Linked DNA regions of Homo sapiens. The protein of the gene in region 3 purifies or fractionates together with the protein of the main gene of each other region. This does not show direct contact. Each region holds a gene or a part of one and is shown on either strand. Other genes may lie near its edges. The genes, in order: BOK, FRMD5 and IRAG1.

Region 1 (3,097 bases), on a different chromosome or scaffold from region 3:
CCAAGGTGCTGGGATTATAGGCGTGAGCCACTGTGCCCAGCCTGCCTTCTGTGGCTGAGTAACATCCACCACATTTGTATCCATTTATCTGTTGAAGGATACTTGGGTTCTTTCCACCTTTTGGCAATTGTGAATTGGCTGCTGTGAATGTCTGTGACTGAGTGTTTGTTTGAGCTGATTTATGTTTTCATAACAAATCCAGGTTGGCCGCTGTATGAGGGTGGATTGGAGAGCAGTGCTTCATCTTTGCATGTACAGTGTCCTCAGGCTAACTCCCTCCAGGGACCACTGCTGACTCCCTCCGGGGACCGCTGCTAACTCCCTGCGGGGATCACTGCTGGGCTGCATGTTTTGTGGCCATTCAGATACTGCCAGTGCCCTCAAGCTGGGCTTCCCACCAAGGTTTACAAGGCTGTGCAGTGGCCTGAATCCTCACACTGCCATTTAAAAGCATGTATTTATTTATTTATTTAGAGACGGGGTCTCGCTCTGTCGCCCAGGCTGGAGTGTACTGGCGCGATCTCAGCTCACTGCAACCTCCGCCTCCCCGGGTTCAAGTGATTCTCCTGCTTCAGCCTCCCGAGTAGCTGGGATTATAGGCGCGTGCCACCACGCCTGGCTAATTTTTTGTGTATTTTTAGTAGAGACGGTTTCACCATGTTGGTCAGGCTGCTCTTGAACTCCCAACCTTGTGATCTGCCCGCCTCGGCCTCCCAAAGTGCTGGGATTCCAGGCGTGAGCCACCGCGCCTGGCGTAAAAGCTTTTAATGCAACAGATTACATTTTGTTTTAATTTGCCTTTCTTTGGTTATTAATGAAGGTAAACATTTTTCGTGTCTCTTATTATAATTTTCTTTTGTGAATCAGCTGTTCCAGTTCTGTGCTCATAGTTCTTTTTTGAAAGCCTCTCTTTTCTCGCTCACGTATAAGACGTCTTTCCGTGTTGAGGCGTCGTGTCCTGCCTTTTATTCTTTCCCCCGCTGTCACCATCTTTCGTCCTCTCTTTCAAGGCTGCTCCCATCTCAGTTCAGCCTCAGCAGGTTAGGGGTCTGGGGAAGGCAGTTTCTCTGCGGGCCTCAGCTTCTTTATGTGTAAAATGTGGACGCCAGGCCTGTTGTGGGAACAGGCAGCCCAGGGGTGCCACCCGTGAGGTCACTGGCTGCTCACTCCATCTGCTGCTGCCCTCAGTTCCCTCGCCTCACCCCACGTTGTCCCTGCGGCCTCCTGCACAGACGTGGGCTGGGCAGGTGTGCAGTGGAGGCCGAGAAACCTGCCTGCCCAAGAACTACCTGACAGGCATCCTGTCAGGGAGCGGTCCCCCCTTGGGACGGTCCCTGGTCATTAGCTGGACGGCAAGCAGGACAGCGGCTCAGAGAGGCCCAGCCCCTTCCTTAAGTGCTCCCGTGGGCGGGATTCAAGTCCTGATCTTGACCATCTCTCTCCCTGCAGGCATCACGTGGGGCAAGGTGGTGTCCCTGTATGCGGTGGCCGCGGGGCTGGCCGTGGACTGTGTGAGGCAGGCCCAGCCTGCCATGGTCCACGCCCTCGTGGACTGCCTGGGGGAGTTCGTGCGCAAGACCCTGGCAACCTGGCTGCGGAGACGCGGCGGATGGGTGAGCGCCTGAGTGCCCGTGTGGGTGGGAGAGCTGGGGTGCGAGGGTGCAGAGGTACAGGAGGGAGTGGTGGATGGGTGAGCCTCTGAGCGCCTGGGGGGTGGGAGAGCTGGGGTGCGAGGGTACAGACGTACGGGAGGGAGTGGCGGATGGGTGAGTGTCTGAGCGCCTGGGGGGTGGGAGAGCTGGGGTGCGAGGGTGCAGAGGTACGGGAGGGAGTGGCGGATGGGTGAGCCTCTGAGCGCCTGGGGGGTGGGAGAGCTGGGGTGCGAGGGTACAGACGTACGGGAGGGAGTGGCGGATGGGTGAGTGTCTGAGCGCCTGTGGGGGTGGGAGAGCTGGGGTGCGAGGGTGCAGAGGTACAGGAGGGAGTGGTGGATGGGTGAGCCTCTGAGCGCCTGGGGGGTGGGAGAGCTGGGGTGCGAGGGTACAGACGTACGGGAGGGAGTGGCGGATGGGTGAGTGTCTGAGCGCCTGTGGGGGTGGGAGAGCTGGGGTGCGAGGGTGCAGAGGTACAGGAGGGAGTGGTGGATGGGTGAGCCTCTGAGCGCCTGGGGGGTGGGAGAGCTGGGGTGCGAGGGTACAGACGTACGGGAGGGAGTGGCGGATGGGTGAGTGTCTGAGCGCCTGTGGGGGTGGGAGAGCTGGGGTGCGAGGGTGCAGAGGTACAGGAGGGAGTGGCGGATGGGTGAGTGTCTGAGCGCCTGTGGGGGTGGGAGAGCTGGGGTGCGAGGGTGCAGAGGTACGGGAGGGAGTGGCGGATGGGTGGTCACCTGAGCACTCCTGGGGGAGATGGGTGAGGCAGGGGGTGGGGCAAGGGCCGAGACCTACAGGCAGGCCCTGGACTCTCCTCTGCCCAGATCCAGCACTGACTTACCCCCGATCCTACCCCTGTGCTAAGGACCCGCTGCCCCAGCCCCCGCCCTCCCGAGTGGGAAAAGCAAGGCCCCGAGGGGTGGGTGTCAGAGCCAAACCCTTCCTCTGTCTCCACGCCCCCAACTTCCTGCCCTGCTCCGGCCAGACCGCAGTTGCCGCTGGGCCCTGGGTGTGGAGGGTGGCTCCCCTGCCGAGAGTCTAGCCTTCTTTCCTGTACAGCGGGTGTTGGCCTGGTGTGTAAATCAGCGGCCAGGGGTGACAGCGCTCAGACCCCTCTGCTGGGGCCTTAGCTTTAGCATCTCGAGAGATTGAGGTCACGTGGTCTGCGGGGGCTGTGGTCTCCTCTGAAGGCTGAATTGGGGGTGCAGAGGGCAATGTCCCAAGATGTCGCACATGGCTACAGGTGTCCCTCAGCACAGAAACCCCAAGACTTCCGTCCCCTCCTGTCTTCCTCCTGTGGAGTCTGGCATGGGGCTGGGCACTGTGTGCCCAGTGGGCGACGACACTTTGAGCAACGCCAAGGCCACAGGTCCAGGCTGCAGGGAAAAGCCTTCATGTATTAGCAGGAAGTGAAGGGAATAAGAGAATTGGACGTTCATTCACTTCCC
Region 2 (3,654 bases), on a different chromosome or scaffold from region 3:
ACCATTCAAAATCAGGACCAAATCTAGCTATTCTTATGCCTCATTTGAGTCATTTTACTATGTCACAATTCAGGGGCCCTTTTCCTTCAGTAGAAATTGTGAGGCCTCTCAAAGCATGGAAAATGAAATAAGGGATTGGATAAAGCAGTGGTTCTCAAAGTATGGCCCCTAGATAGGCATTATCCATATCACCTGGGTACTTGTTAGAAATGCAAATTCTTGACCCCATCCCAGACCTAGTGAATCAAAAACTCCGGGGATGGAGTTCAGCAGTCTGTTTAACAAGTCTTCCAGGTGATTCTTAGGCTTGCTGAGGTTTGAGAATCACTACTACTGGGTTACAGAGATATTTAGTAGGTAAAATGGACAAGTGTTGATTGACTGGATGTAAAATGTGAGGGAGAGGGAGAGGTGAAGAAGGAATCTCACATTTCTAACTTTTGATTTATTCCTGAATTGTCTTAATAGATTCTCTTCCCTTGCAAGGTAAATGCTAGGTTGTCTACAGATATGCATACCTATTTTCAAGTGGGTAGGAGTCTAAAGATTCTGCAGTGCGTCATTATACCAGTTTGATGCTGTTGTATTTATTGGTTAGTATTTTTTGTCTCTCCTGACCTAAAAACAGTAGATTATTGTATATTTGTATATTTTTTAAAAATAAATTTTGTTCACAACTTGACGCACTAGGGGAAAGGAAAAGTCAAGGCCCCTGTTGTCGAAGGGCTTACAACTTAGGGATTGCAAACACGTAAATAACAAACTATAAAGCATCATGGAATTTGGAGCTAAGACAAGGGGATATGTTGTGGCAATGCAGATTTGGGTTGGAGTTTGGGAAATGGGGAGGGATTCCAAAATTAATAATTGTTTTTCAAAGGAGATGAAATTTGAACCAGGTTATGAAAAATTGCCAAAAGCAGGGCCAGGCACTGTGGTTTATGCCTATAATCTCAGTGCTTTGGGGGACCAAGGCAGGAGGATCCCTCGAGGCCAGGAGTTTGAGTCTATCCTGGGCAACATAGCAAGACCTTGTCTCTACAAAAAATTTAAAATTTAGGCTGGCATGTTGGTGTATACCTGTAGTCCTAGCTACATGAGGGGGCTGAGGTGGGAGGATTTTGTAAGCCCAGGAGTTTGAGGTTACAATGAGCTATGATTGTGCCATTGTACTCCAGCCTGGGCTACAGATGGAAACGCTGTCTCCTAAAAAAAAAAAAAAAATTGCCAAAAGCAAAAATGGCATGGGGATGCGTAAAGAGCATTAGAGGCTGAGTTAACAGCAGACTACTTCTAAGTGGAAAAGTTAAAAATGTAAAGTCTTTAGTTTTTTTCTTTAGTATGTTTATCTGACTTACTCTGGTATAGTTGAGTCAAACAACAGAAATCTGCTTGGGGAAAATTCCTGTCAGTAAATTTCAATCATACTTGACATGCAGAGAGGAATCAATCTAAACTAATAATGCATAAAGCTAGTGTTGAATTAAATCTAATTCTAAAATTGTATAACACAAATTAAGATTCTTCACAAAGCAATGGCATTATGTCAAGAAAAGGTGGATTCAGATTTCAATCTTCATTCTGTGGCTGCAGTAACTACATATGAATTTTATTTCCAAGAGGACTCTTCTCTTCAGGATCAGTTTAATCATCTGACAAAAAAGAGGGTATCAAATTGTAACATTTAGCCGATGTTTGAAAATCCTTTGATGAATACAGTGCAGCCCCAATTGTGCATTAACAGTTAAGAAATGTGACCCATGGAGTCCTAAAAGGCACATTTCAGCATCTCTGTTCCCAAACCTAAGTGGCCACCAAAAATAGCTTCTCTTGAGGACCGAGGATTGCGTCTCTGAATTCCCCAGTGAACCCCTGACAGCTTCGAAGTTCCCAGCCTTATACAGGGTGTACTTTTAGCACTCAACACAATGCCAGGCTAGAGCTTTGGGGATGGGAACCTCCAAGAAAGCACTGTTCGGCATTTGGGCAATCAGTGTTCGGCAGAATGCCAATGCTAATAGGTTATTTTGCTCTGGAAAAGGAGAAAAAGAAGGGATAGTCTAAAGACTGATGAATAGGGGATGACTGACAATACGGACACTCCACTTTATTGGAGAGATTAAGGGGGCTTGCTGTGAAGTGGTATTGTGGGAGCCAGAAAAATTAGCAAAGGCCCACAGGCCCAAGACCTGAAATAAATAGTGGTACATCAAACCCGCATGCCCTAGGGCACACTCAAATGTCTGGCCACTTTCAGTGAACTTGTAGCAGGAAAAAGCCAAATCATTAGGAACCCTCATAGTCTGGTACTCCATCCAGGCACTCCTTAGTCAGGCAAATTATCCTTCACCTCCAGACAGGTGCAGAGCCTTTTTTCTCTACACCCTGACTTAACCCAAGGGCCTGTAGTCTGGGCCTCAGTCTAATTTTGAGGATACTGAGTGGAAAAGTTGGCTTCAGGATTTCCAAAGGATTCCAAATACTCTAGGCAGGAGGTGCCACTAAGATTCTTGTTTTGTTAGACTTGAACCAAGCAGGTAAGAACATTGATCATAACACAAGAAAGGCCGGGTGCGGTGGCTCACGCCTGTAATCCCAGCACTTTGGGAGGCCGAGGTGGGTGGATCCCCTGAGGTCTGGAGTTTGAGACCAGCCTGACCAACGTGGAGAAACCCTGTCTCTACTAAAAATAAAAAATTAGCTGGGTGTGGTGACGCATGCCTGTAATCCCAGCTACTCTGGAGGCTGAGGCAGGAGAATCGTTTGAACTGGGGAGGCGAAGGTTGTGGGTGAGCCGAAATCACGCCATTGCACTCCAGCCTGGGCAACAAGAGAGAAACTCTGTCTCAAAACAAACAAACAGACAAAAAACACAAGAAAGCAGAATTAGTGAATTCACATAAGGATCTCATGTACTTCCAGAGGTAATTTAAGATGGAGAAAGCATCTAGCCTGCCCTCTTTTAGATTTTTTGCCTCTAGAGCATTTTTTTTTTTTTAAGATAAGAGTCTCACTCTGTCGCCCAAGCTGGAGTTCAGTGGTATGATGTCGGCTCATTGCAACCTCTGCCTCCTGGGTTCAAGCAATTCTTGCGTCTCAGCCTCCTGAGTAGCTGGGATTACAGGCATGCACCACCACGCTCAGCTAATTTTTGTATTTTTAGTACAGAAGGGGTTTCACCATGTTGGCTAGGCTGGTTTCTAAACTCCTGACCTTAAGCAATCCACCCGCCTCAGCCTCCCAAAGTGCTAGGATTACAAGTGTGAGCCACCATGCCTGGCCTTGCCTCTAGAAGACTCTAAAGGCCCCAAAGTTATTATGGAATTGGAGGTTTGTAGGTCAGAAGGACTCCATGGATTGGCAATGATGCCTGGAATGTTATAAGGCATATTAAGCCTGCAATTTCTCAGTATACACTTATCTGTCTAACAGAATAGCCCCTCAGCTCTTCGGGAGGCCATTTGGAAGTTATACTATCAAAAGAAATTTGGCTGTTGAGCAGTGAAACTCTGATAAAAACATAAGGAAGTCCCAGTACTGGAATGCAACTTCTTCAAACTATGCCCAGCTTCAGATTCTAGTACATGTGAAATAGGTTTTAAAAAAACCAGGAGAGGAGTTTGCTTGGTGTAGCTACAGAACATAAAACACTGA
Region 3 (3,235 bases):
AAAAAAGTATAGGCTGAATTTAGCTCAGTGCTTGAAATGGGAAGATATGAATTATTATATACGCATCTGTCCACACATACACACATACTGTTGTGTACACACACACAACATGCCTGTGCACAGAGCCAACAACCCTTCAAAAGTGTGCTCTGGGTGTGTACCTCTGGATAAATAAGATGCATGCCAAGCCAACCCACAGATTTTCACCAGTGTGGGGCAGTCACCAGGCACCTGTTCAATGAGCTGTCCACATGGATTGAAGATGTTTTAAAAACACAGAAAACTCATGGCTTCAATGGCAGACTTACTAGTCTCCATTTCAAATGCCAACTCTGAGCTGCTGTACAGCACAATCTATTCCCTATTCTCTCTTTGAAAACAGTTAACCCACCTCACAGGTGAATGAGGAGAGAAGATGTGCTTTCTGCTTCAGTCTCTTACTCTGTGTGTGACCACATGCAAGAGTAAACTTGCACCTCAGTGCTTCAGTTCAAATGGGGTTTCCAACCCCAGTATAATTAGGGGTGTTTCAGAGCATCCCCAGTTATTTAGCACAACACTGAAGGAGCACATCCCCTCTCCATTTTGACTTCTCTCCCCACTTTTACAGCCACTGCCTTCATCAGTTTTGTAGAGGTTTGATTTCCATGTGGGTTTTGTTGTCATTGTTTTGCATTTTTGTTTTGTTATTGATATTGTTTGCTTTCATTGCTAAAACTCATATACGACTTACTATGAGCCAAGCACTGTTCTCAGTATTACATAGGTATGAATTCATTTAAGTCCTGAAGAAAAAGAAAAAAAAATACGAAGTGGATATTACCCTTCCCATTTTCAAATAAGGAAACTGAAGCACAAAAAGAACAAGTAACTTGACAAGGACACCCCGGTAGTAAATCATGGGGCTGGAGCTCAACCCCAGGGTAGGCTGGCTCCAGAGCTGTGCTCTCCTTGACTCTTCTGATGGTCTCCTAGCTGGAAGCCTCACATTTCAGTCTCATTCCCCCAAGTGGCCCATCAGCTACTCCATCTCTGGCTCCCCAACTAAACAGTTTCTCTCATAGTGCTGGACCTCCACTCACTAGTTTTTTTTCCAGCTGTTCTTCTCTTTTCTTCAGGTCACTCTTCTCGACCGAGTGCAAAAATTATCCCCTCCATACCAGCTTTGATGACCTTCCTTCCATACTCCTCACCAGACACAACATAATAGGTCACACACTCCTCTGTGCTTTCTGGCACGTTTTAAACATTATTATTATTGACCTTTACCTATAGTATACCATGGCCTATTTATGTATCCATCTCCCCTAGCATTTTTCCTCAAAGACAAGAACCATGTCTTACCCATCTCTTGGGTAAGTGCCTAGCATGGTGGCTGACGCTTGGGAGGGTGTCATTAAATGTTGCTCAAAAGAACAAGCAAACATTTAAGGTGGTGGAGAGCAGCCTGGGGACAGCTGACATGCTGCATGCTTCTCAGTACCAGCACCATCACAATGCAAAAAGCAACATCTTTCTTAACCTCAGCTTATTCTGTTTTTCAGTCTACTCTGTGAGAGAGCAGGAATGAGACCAGACTAGCAACACCATTGCCAAGCTCAAGGACTGGGCTCAATGCAGTCACTCCTTCAGAGAGACCCCCCACCCCAAGCATGCCCCACTTTAAAATAGCATGTTTATTGAAGGGGGCATCCTTTACAGTAGCTAGAAAATGACTGAGGCCCAAGCCAGGGTTGATCAAGGATGTGCCATTAAGGTAAAGAGTTACAGAGCAGGGCAGAGGGACTCTGGGGGCAGAAGTGGATGATTTGCCCGGCCTCTTCCAGGGGGTCTGGATACAACTGAAGGAGCTTTAGCTACATGAGGCCCTCAGAGCCAAAGACAGGATGCAAATAGAGTTCTAGAGAGTGGCCGTGGAAGCAGAACTCCAGGTGGGGAATGTTCAATCTCTGCCTCCCTTAAAGCAGGGCCAGGCTCAGCTGGCCCCATTGTTCACTTGGTCACAAGTTTCCTACCTTTGTTTCTGGATGAGTCAAAGGCCAGGAAGGCAGTTATGGAGAGCTCCTGCACCTCCAGCTGCCCCACAGAAAAGCCTGCAAGAGTACTTCCAGGCACAGGCCCTCTCCCACCCTATTCCATTTGTAAGCAAGGGAGGTCGAGGAAAAGGACATCTCCAAAAGGGAGCATAAGAATAGCCATATATACAGGGGCTGAAAAAGTGCTCATGAGTCCATCTTTTCTGGAAAGCAAAGACCAGCCTGAAGCAGTGGGAGCTGCTGCCCAAGCGGTAGTGAACTGGAGAGAAACAGGCCCTGGATTTTCAGTGAGGATGTGGATCTGAAGAGTCCCCCAAATGCCTCTGAAGTCTGACATCTCTGCTTAGCCCTAGGAGTCTGGTTCCCTGCCTTCAGTTGCAGAGTGATGTGTTTGTGTCATTGTTGATGTCACCTCCTAAAAAGACCTTCACTTTCTGGCTGCCACAAAGCCATATGTGTTGCTCCCCATATACAGCCTGACAGAGTAAATGGAGAGGAAGTGCTGGATTTGTGTATCACTGGCTATCAGTTCCTCATGTTGTTAAGCCTCACACAGGTGTGCTAGCATTGAACTGTAGAGTGTCACATACCTGAGTTTGAAAATAAAAGCACATTTCCAAACCTCTGGCAGCAGCCAAATGCCTCCTCATTTTATGGAGTTGAATTACAGTCTTACCCCAACCCAGAATTAGATGCCTTTGGATATATTAGTGCATTCCAGAACCAAGTCAGAGGTCCCCAACCCTTGGTCGTTATACTATGGGCTACCTCACAGGGGCTGGATCAGTTCCTCCTCTTCCCTTCCCCATTCCTGATCCTGGTTTCCTGTATCTTCCTGGTCTATGATTTTTTTAATTAACACAGTTTGCTGTGATTGAGTCTGCTGAGTTTTTAACCAACCTGATTTCCACAGCTGAACTATTTTTGTCTTTCTTACAGCTAGCTGCAGGGGAATGTGGACTTTCCAAATCTAGTTCCCTAAAAATAAACTCTCCTGCCCAATACTTCACACCTTTTTTTACTCCCTTCTCTGCCTACCAAAGCCAGAGGATTCAGATGAGAACACTGAGACCCGAGAAAATGGCAGAACCACTAGACGGAAGCTGGGTCTTTGAATGAGCACTCCCAGTATTGAACTGTGACATGAATAAGAAATAAGATTTTAGTATATTAAGCCACAGAGATTCCAGGATGTTTAT

What was found.
Region 1: the proteins of IRAG1 (region 3) and BOK purify together in Homo sapiens (affinity purification with mass spectrometry; one large-scale study listed by BioGRID and IntAct). This does not show direct contact.
Region 2: the proteins of IRAG1 (region 3) and FRMD5 purify together in Homo sapiens (affinity purification with mass spectrometry; one large-scale study listed by BioGRID and IntAct). This does not show direct contact.

Annotation. Positions count from the first base shown.
Region 1 is NC_000002.12:241,568,676-241,571,772, forward strand, and holds part of BOK (bcl-2-related ovarian killer protein), read left to right. Parts: intron 1-1,449; coding exon 1,450-1,613; intron 1,614-3,097.
Region 2 is NC_000015.10:44,185,138-44,188,791, reverse strand, and holds part of FRMD5 (FERM domain-containing protein 5), read left to right. Parts: intron 1-3,654. UniProt on the Homo sapiens protein: May be involved in regulation of cell migration. May regulate cell-matrix interactions via its interaction with ITGB5 and modifying ITGB5 cytoplasmic tail interactions such as with FERMT2 and TLN1.
Region 3 is NC_000011.10:10,572,517-10,575,751, reverse strand, and holds the end of IRAG1 (inositol 1,4,5-triphosphate receptor associated 1), read left to right. Parts: 3' UTR 1-2,657; downstream 2,658-3,235.